Regions from separate parts of the Homo sapiens genome. Here region 2 is linked to region 1. Evidence: fine-mapped expression QTL. A gene starts in region 1. The other region holds a variant in brackets. All regions are shown on one strand. Distances are from middle to middle.

What was found. PIP is the estimated chance that this variant, and not a neighbour inherited with it, causes the effect. A credible set is the group of variants that fine-mapping cannot tell apart.
Region 2: its variant is the best candidate, but not a certain one, in a credible set for the expression of SUSD4 in whole blood (TOPMed, PIP 0.71).

What each region holds. Positions count from the first base shown.
Region 1 is chr1:223,362,322-223,366,715 of GRCh38, reverse strand. It overlaps SUSD4 (sushi domain containing 4), which reads left to right and starts at 2,540. Exons shown (of 9, transcript NM_017982.4): 1 at 2,540-2,659; 2 at 3,256-3,438. The coding sequence starts at 3,291.
Region 2 is chr1:223,302,464-223,306,857 of GRCh38, reverse strand. The region is part of intron 2 of SUSD4 (sushi domain containing 4); the gene reads left to right. Among named protein-coding and RNA genes, the nearest start is that of SUSD4, 60 kb to the left of the region's middle. The variant G/C (reference allele first, on the strand shown) is at 2,684.

The DNA of each region.
Region 1 (4,394 bases):
ACTCTGGGGACTGTTGTGGGGTGGGGGGCGGGGAGAGATAGCATTGGGAGATATACCTAATGCTAGATGACGAGTTGGTGTAGCGCACCAGCATGGCACGTGTATACATATGTAACTAACGTGCACATTGTGCACGTGTACCCTAAAACTTAAAGTATAACAATAATTAAAAATAATAATAATAATAACAATATGTTATGCTGTAGTTGCCCTCCAAATGCTTGTCTTCTTCAGCTGAATTAATAGAAGCAAGTTGTTTAAAATACAGAAAGCAACAGTACCGGCCTGTACTGGTCAGAACCCACAGAGGGAAAGTAGGGCCTCTTTCTGGAAACAAACTTTGATTGCTGGGGGTGGATATCATTGAGAAACTGGGTCAGAGAAAGGCCACAGGCTGGTGAAAAGTCTGGGAATCGTCGCACTGAAGGAAATGGCTATGCGTGACCCAGAGAAGAGAAGACTCAAGGGAACACGAAGCCATCTCCAAAGCCATGAGATGCTCTCTTAAGAAAGAGGAATTCTATTTAGCTGCGTGGGCCCACAGAGGAGAGCCAGAATCAGTGGGTAAAGGTTTCAGGGAAGTAGATTTCAGTTCAATATAAGAAAGACTTTTCTAAGAGACCTGCTGGCAAATATAAACAGGCTACCTTGATGAGTATTCAGTGAGGCTGAATGACCACTTATTAGAAATGTCAGAGAGGAAACTCAAGCATAGATCCCATGTTTGGATCAGATAAACTTGAATGTTCCTTTCAGTCCCAACATTCTCTGTTAAAATTAGATTGTACTCCAGCCAAAGAACAGATTTCAATGGCACTTAGATATATCTCTTATAATTGTTAAGAACATGTGCATGGTCAACAAATATTTCTGACCGTTGTTGATTTGGTGGATATTTAAAAAGATTTAGAAAATTTACTAAGAAAGAAAAATGGAATAAATATACAAACTGTAGAGGACAGTCACAGGACCTTGGGAAGGTGGATGGTCCCCTACTAAGATTTTGGGGTCCCAAAGTACAAGCTGTAGCAAAACTGGACTTGTGCTAGTCAACATCTTGTTTATTTTGTGCAAAGCTGCCATCTCAATTTCACACACACGCAAAAGCAAAAAACAAAATAACGGAGCTTGACTTATCTACTAAAAGCTAATCTATCCTGAAAGAATGTGTTAAAATTACTCCCAGTAAGAGCTGACACAGTATAAAAGCTGTAATTTCCCAACTACCATCAGTATGTGAGATTTTGGGAAAGTCGATAGAAGCAAAGGATGATTTAGTAGCTGTATCAGGAACATAGTTTTCATATCCACAAATTGCTACAGAATCATGGAGTGTCACTGGCTCTAAAGCGCTGCCGGTGGACGCCACCTCATTAGCTGACACCTCTTAATCACTGTGGCTGGAATGTGGGCTTCCCTATCTTGAAACCGACCGCGGGCGATCAGAGCCGGCGGCGAGTGAGAGCTGCAACCACTGCGGGCTGAGCTCCGACACCAGAATCGGCGCAGAGACAGGGGACCGACCAGGCCAACTCTCTCCACTTGGGGCTGGGAGGGCAATTACCACCGACCCCCTTGGCTTCCCATCTACGACCCCGGAAGCCTCCCCTCCTCCAGGTACCCAACCTTCTGCGTGTCACCAATCACCCGCTACCCCCGCCTCCCCGCCCCCGGGAGCGCCTCCCAGGCCAAGGCTCCGAGGGCCCCGCGCATCTCCAAGACCGGACAGGGGTCCTCACTCGCAACACCTGCGGCTGGCAGAGGGAAAATACCAAGGGTGTGGGGGAGGGGGAGAGTGTCTCTCAGCCGCCTCAGATGGTCCTTCGGGCTCCCTGGGGACGCGCAGAGCTTCGGCGGAGATGGGAGCGGGGAGGGGTTAACGCGGGAAATTAAGAGACTCGGGCAATTGGCGGTGCTCAAGTTAACCGGGTCTGTGGCGAGAGTTCTGGGGTTGGGAGCTGCCGGCCGCGCACTCGCCCCGGGTCTGCAGCCACCGCCGCGGCGGTAGTTCTAGGGCGGAGCGCTCTCCCGCGCCGCGCCGCGGGCTGGGGGCACCAGAGGCCGCGCGGAGGCCGGGGCGGGCACCTGAGCTGGCGCGCAGCCGGGGCAGGGGCTGCAGTCCAGCGCCGGGGAAGGGGCGACCGAGCTGCGTGCGTGTGCAAGACCGGCCGCCGGCGCCTCGCGCCCCGACAGGTGCAGGCGCGCGGGCTTCCCATTGGTCGCGGCGGCGGGCCCCTTTCCCCGTCCCCGCCCTCGCCAGTCTCCGGCCACGCCGCGGCGCCGGCTGGGTTGGCAGAGGCGCGTGCTCGCGCGCCCGCGCACCCCTCGCCCCGTCCCCGCCCCCCCACTCACCCCGTCCCCACCCACTCCCTCTCTCCGCGCCGCCGCCGCCGCGCGCTCGCGAGTTCAGGTAGCGGGCGCGCGGGCGCCTCCGCGGGGGCGCGCGGCCGGGCTCCCGTCCTCCCCCAACACCCGCCCGCTCGGGGGCGCCTGGGGAGGGAGCGCGCGGGCGGGGGAGCTGGAGCCGAGCGCCGCCGCCGAAGCTTCCGTCTCGCTCGCTCGCGCAGCGGCGGCAGCAGAGGTCGCGCACAGATGCGGGTTAGACTGGCGGGGGGAGGAGGCGGAGGAGGGAAGGAAGCTGCATGCATGAGACCCACAGGTAAGACCGACAGTCCCGGAAGGGTCTTCCATTCCGAGGAGGCGCGCGCAGGCCGGGGAGGGGGAGTTGGTGCCTGGTGCAGCTCCCCAAGGGAGAATTTTTTTTTTTTTTTTGACAGCGCAGAGAAATCTCACTGGGGACTGGGGCAGTAGGATCGATCCCAATCCCGAGGAAAACCAGAGAAGTAGCTGGGGGAGACGGTGCCACATTGTGAGATTCCCAGAGTGAAATGTATAGGCCCAGGGAAAAGTGTCTTCGCGGCCCCGAGACGCGGGGAGGCTCTAGACTTTCCTGTGGTGGGCACAGCTGCTGAATCCCGGGGACCGGCGCGGAGCCAATGTGCGCTAACCCCTGCCCTCCCTCCTGTCCTCCATCCCCCAGCACGCGCAGCATCCCACGGCGGCTGTTACTCAGTGCACCCGGCTCGGGGGAAGGCGGGGGACCTCGCCGTGGGAAAGGGGGCGGGGGCCGCGCGGGGGAGGAACCAGGATGGAGCCTGGGAAGCCGAGGCGCCGGGTCCCAGAGCGGAGGAGGGGGAGCGTGGCCCCCGAGCCCGGACAGACTGGCTTATTGTGGTGTTCCGCTTCTGGTTGCAGACTCTTGCAAGCTGGATGCCCTCTGTGGATGAAAGATGTATCATGGAATGAACCCGAGCAATGGAGATGGATTTCTAGAGCAGCAGCAGCAGCAGCAGCAACCTCAGTCCCCCCAGAGACTCTTGGCCGTGATCCTGTGGTTTCAGCTGGCGCTGTGCTTCGGCCCTGCACAGCTCACGGGCGGTGAGTGACCCAGCTGTGGTGGGAGGGCCTGGGGATGGCCCAGAGGGGAGAAAGAGCCTAGCTGCCAGGACAGCCCTGCACCCCTCCCCCATACACCCAGACTTCAGGAGGATCTGACAACGCGAGGGTGCCTGCGTCCCAGCCTATGGCCGCCCTTCTCCGAAACCGCTGGAGTTCCCTGAAAATTCCCATGTGGAGCCCGCACAGATTCACACACCCACATTCTGTCTGGAGCTTCCCACCAGCCTCCGGGCCTGGCTTCTCCCAAGGAAAGACAATAAAGCCTGGCCCATTATTCCCACTTTGGCCAAGGAAGCGGGGGCGGGGGGGGGAGGGGTGGGGGGTGGGGGCAGTGGGGAGTGGTGTATTTGTGGACCTCTTGCCAATGCCTTCAGCAGATAGAGGTCAGATTTCAGCCTCTGGATTTAAGCAAGAGTTTAAGAACCACCTTTGAGAATGTGAAGGGTCTGGAAACGTGGTCAGACTGGCTGCGGGGCAGGTTTATTTGAAAGTTAACTTTCCCTTCCCCTGTGTGTGCAGCATGTATGTGTATGTTGGGGGCGTGGAGGAGGTGCAGAGGTATTCTTTCAGGTGTGCCTCTGACAGATTGCTTTGCTCATCGAGGTATGATTTCAGGGAATAAAGTCAGTTGCTCTTCTATGAAGTAGAAGTTAGCTGAAATAAAATTGATAGCCTCAGCCTCCGTGGGCGGCTAATCTATAACATATTTGGTTCTGGGGGAGGGGTATCTTTTAGTTGTGGTAGAGGAAGACAGATGGAGTTCCTGTCTGAATTTGAGAGCCTAGTCTCCCTGCCTCCACTGCTCATTGCTGTCCATCATTCCTGTCCATTGCAAACGTTCTCTAGAGCTTGCTGATGTGGACGTTAAAAGGAGCTGAGATACTGTTAATATATAAATAAATTATCTTTGGTTGAAAAGCAAGTATTGACTGATG
Region 2 (4,394 bases), 60 kb after region 1:
TCATTATACTTAATAAGGATGTGCTTTAGAAAAGAGCCACATCTTTGACCATATTAATCAGTTAAAAAATTATCTGGTGGCTTATGCCTGTAATCCCAGCACTTTGGGAGGCCAAGATGGGCAGATCGCTTGTGCTCAGGAGTTCAAGACCAGCTTGGGCAACATGACAAAATTCTGTCTCTACCAAAAACATAAAAAATTATCCAGGCATGGTGGCACACACCTGTAGTCCCAGCTACTCAAGAGGATGAGGTGTGAGGATCGCTTGAGCCTAGGAGGTAGAGGCTGCAGTGAGCTGAGATTGTGCCACTGCACTCCAGCCTGGGTGACAGAGTGAGACCCTATCTCAAAAACAAAAAAATTACCCATGCCTTCTTCAAATGTTTCGACAATTGATAATCTTAAAACTTACAAATGCAAGACTTCCCTGCCACCATCTTCCTGTTGATGAAGTGAATCCTCAGATTTTCCTGATGAGTGGTTTTCTGTGCTTGCTTGATTTTGAATAGATGAAGGTTTATTCTGTTTTCCCATGATATAATACCACAATCTGGAAGAATTTTGTGAAGTTGCTGGGCATGCTTTTATAGAGCAGTTTCATGAGACTGGAGTGAAAATCACATTATGAGTTAGCATTGTTATCAGTTTTATTGGAGCTGAAACTGAGTGAAAGGATTTAGGAATAATTGGGTAATCAAAGCGAATTAAATCAAGAGAGGGGAAAATATCAGTTCTGGCATCAAATGGGGACTGCAATGACTTCCACATCTGTGGTCTTTATCCATTTTAATCAAGTCTAAATTATGCTATTAAGACTTATTTTTGTGACGTTTACTTGTTCAGACATAGCCGACTTTATATTCATCTCTGAATATTTCTTGAAACATTAAAACATTCTCACTATTTCTAGGCAAGAGTTACCTAATTTGATTAGCATCCAAATATTCAGAGTTGATACTGTGTTTACAATCATGAGTGCAGTGTTCAATGTAGTTTCTGGGTAATAGAATCTGCATACTAAGCCTTTAGCCCACATGGATGAATTCTGCATCCCCCAACTCATTCCCATGTCTTCAAAAAACTAGGTTTAAGTGTGCCTTGTTGGTATAAATTTGCTATAATAAATAGTATATCGTGCTATATGGCAGAAGTATGACTATACTAACTAGCCCAGTCTTGCTTTCTGGTTTTCTTTTGTTGTATTTCCCAAGGGGTACTGCTTTTGCAGTGAAAAATCTATTTTGCCTAATAAATGGTAAACAGTAATCAGCTTCCCCTCCCACCTCTTAAATATATGACTGACAATACACTGAATTAAGGAATGACATAGCACTAAATTCACAAACAAGAAAATTAATTTGGGAACCTTTGATTTTCTTTGATGAATTTTTTGTATTGTCTCTTATTGGAAAATTTGTCTTCAGCCTCCTTTTTTGCTCTGAGCTCTTTCCCCATAAATCTTAGAATCCTTGGTGTTCCCATTTGGTGGTTGGGTTTTGCTTTTGCTTAGTCTCATGGGTGCCCAGAAACATGCACTTCCCTGTGCCCAAATCAGGGGGTTCTTTGAAGCTTGATTGCACACCCCCAAAGAGACCAGTGGAGAGCTTCCCTCAGGAGCTGGCTGCTGTCTCTTAGAACAAAGGCCAGAGCTGAGCTGTCTGTGCATGAAAGGCTGCCGGCCCTTAGATTTCCCCTGCAAGCCTGGCTCTTGAAGAAATCACTTTAATTCTCTAGAGGTTTGTGGCTTACCATCAACTGTTTCATAGCTTGACCTTGTGGCCAAGAGAAGGACTCTATTTAGAAATATTTGTTATTGCTCCTAAGTTCAATTGTCATCATCAAAATCATCAAAGACACTTTATTCTAGCAAAAGTTAGGAGAAAGAATAGGCTTGAATATTTTCAGATATTAACATGGCTCTAGGAATTTAGAGAATTGCCTCTGTATGAAGCAATATGTTTTCATTCTTCGGGGAACTGGTTGAATATTAATCACATAGCATATATATATATATATATATATATATATATATATATATATATATATATATATATATATATATATGGAAACCTGAGACACAGAGAGGTTAAGGAACTTACCCAGAGTTACACAGCTAGAGGATGGCAGAGTCGGGATTCAAAGTATACATTCTCACTCTACAACCTGTGCCTATAAGCACCAGCTACATTATTGAAAGTACGTATGTTTTTGAGTATCATGACAAGGTGGAGTGTATTGAAAGTAGTGTTTTTCAAACCTTTTTGACTGTGACCCACTGGAATATACATTGCAAACTAGCCTGTATGCACAAATAAAACTAGTAAAACCACACAAAACAATACTCACCGTTACCATGCAGGGTGTGTATGGACTTTTCTTTTCTGTTCCACTTCATTTCTAAAGGGTGCTGGTCAAGACCCTTAAAATTGATTTCAGGACCTACTATGTAGGGAGACCCCCTGAAACTATTGCTACAGAATAAAAGATGAAATGCTTCTGATTATTGTAAATACAAAATTGCATGCAGGATTGTGTAAAGACAATGCCAGGTTGGACTGCCAGAATGAGCCAACAGCATGTGATGTGCTTCCCCCTGCAGAGAGCCTGTGAACGGACCTGAAGTCAGGGAGGTTTAACATCACCAAGATTCCTATCCCAGAAAAGCAGATGTTCATAGCTCTGG[G/C]AATGGAATGCGACCCTTGTGGAGAGCCTATAAACGGACGCATGAGGGGCGCCTGTTCATATGGATAAGACAGGCCTATAAACGCCCTCATCTTGCCACGGCTCTTCTAGGCCTCTTTAGGGTTAAGACATACTCCCTTCTGAGAATTTCTAGTCTAACTGGTTGTCTAGCTTCACATCCTGTTTCTATGGATTGTTTGTAACCAGCTTTTGCTGCAACTGTTACTGCTGATTAATATCTTGCTAATCATAGGTTATAGAAAGACTGTGTTTCTGTTTTAAGGCTCTGTTAGAAATTACTGATGCACACACTATATTGTAAATTCTTATCTCTGTATACTGTACTGCATACAGATGTTATGTTAAAGAATTACTTCATCCCCATGTGACCATCTCACCTCATAATCAAATGACCCTAAATCCCTCACTAACCTTCCCCTGCCCTCACTAAACTTAATAATAAATGCTGGCATATCCAGTACATTGGCGGCTCATGGGACCAGAAGGTGGTGACCCTCCTGGACCCAGCTTTCACTATCTTGTGTATGTCTATTATTTCTCGACCTGCCGATCCACCTGGGAACAAGGAAAGAGCCCCATTGCATTGCGGGCTGCTGGCCAGATCCTGCAATACTACTATAAGGTCACAATTTGCAGGTCAAAAACTATTGAATGTCCTGTAAGGTCACAATTTGCAGGTCAAAAACTATTGAATGTCCTAGATGTAAGCTCACTCTTTGGAAGACTCAGGTTCCCATTGTTGGTTGAATGAATGCCTGTCCGCTCCTTCCCCCAGTGCCCAGCACTGTTTGTTGATGGAGTGAATATATAAACAGATTATAATTTTTCTTTCTTCATATCTATTTTTTAAAATTATTTTCTCTCTTTCCCTTTTCTTTTTAAAAACCAAGAGCTGAAGTTTTCCCAAACAGAGATTGTTTAGGCTGGAACAGAGGTCAAGGAATACTTAATAATGATCTTCTTATGGACATATGTGTTATCAATGATTTTGGGGGTGTTTTTGAGATAGGGTCTTGCTCTGTTGCCCAGGCTTGGGTATAGTGGCACAATCACACCGTAGCTCACTATAGCCTCGAACTCCTGGGCTCAAGTGATCTTCCCACTTCAGCCTCCTGAGTAGCTAGGACTATAGGAGCATACCACCATGCCCAGATAATTTTAATTTTATTTATTTGTTTTTTTAGAGATGTGGTCTTGTTGTGTTGCCGAGGCTGGTCTGAAACTCCTAGACTTAAGCAAAGTGATGAATTTTTATAAAGCAATCACGTTTCCTTATTAATGTTAGTTGTAATTTTCACAGTGTGTCTGTATCTCCTGCTATTTCTAGTGCTTGCTGGTTCTGGGACCTTCTCTTATTCTCCTGGCCCACGCGGGCATCTCCTCCAGAGGCAGGTTAGTTTGGATGTGCTTTTCTTCTGCTCCATCTCTTTGACAGTTGAGGTATTCCCAGGCAGCCCTGGGGTCCGGGTTAGTCAGTCTTTCTAACATTTTCTGGAAAATGTTTGGCAGTCCTTGAGCTACCTATCATTGGGGCAGGGGGCCCTCAGAATGTTTGAGCCTGACCTTGGCTCAGGGTGGATCTCCAGAACATGTAGAACTTCTCTAGACTCAGGCTCAGGAGGAGTCCTCCATCTGTTGTTGGTGCAGGCACACACCTGGAAGCAATGTCAGGATGGACATTGGTGGCAAGG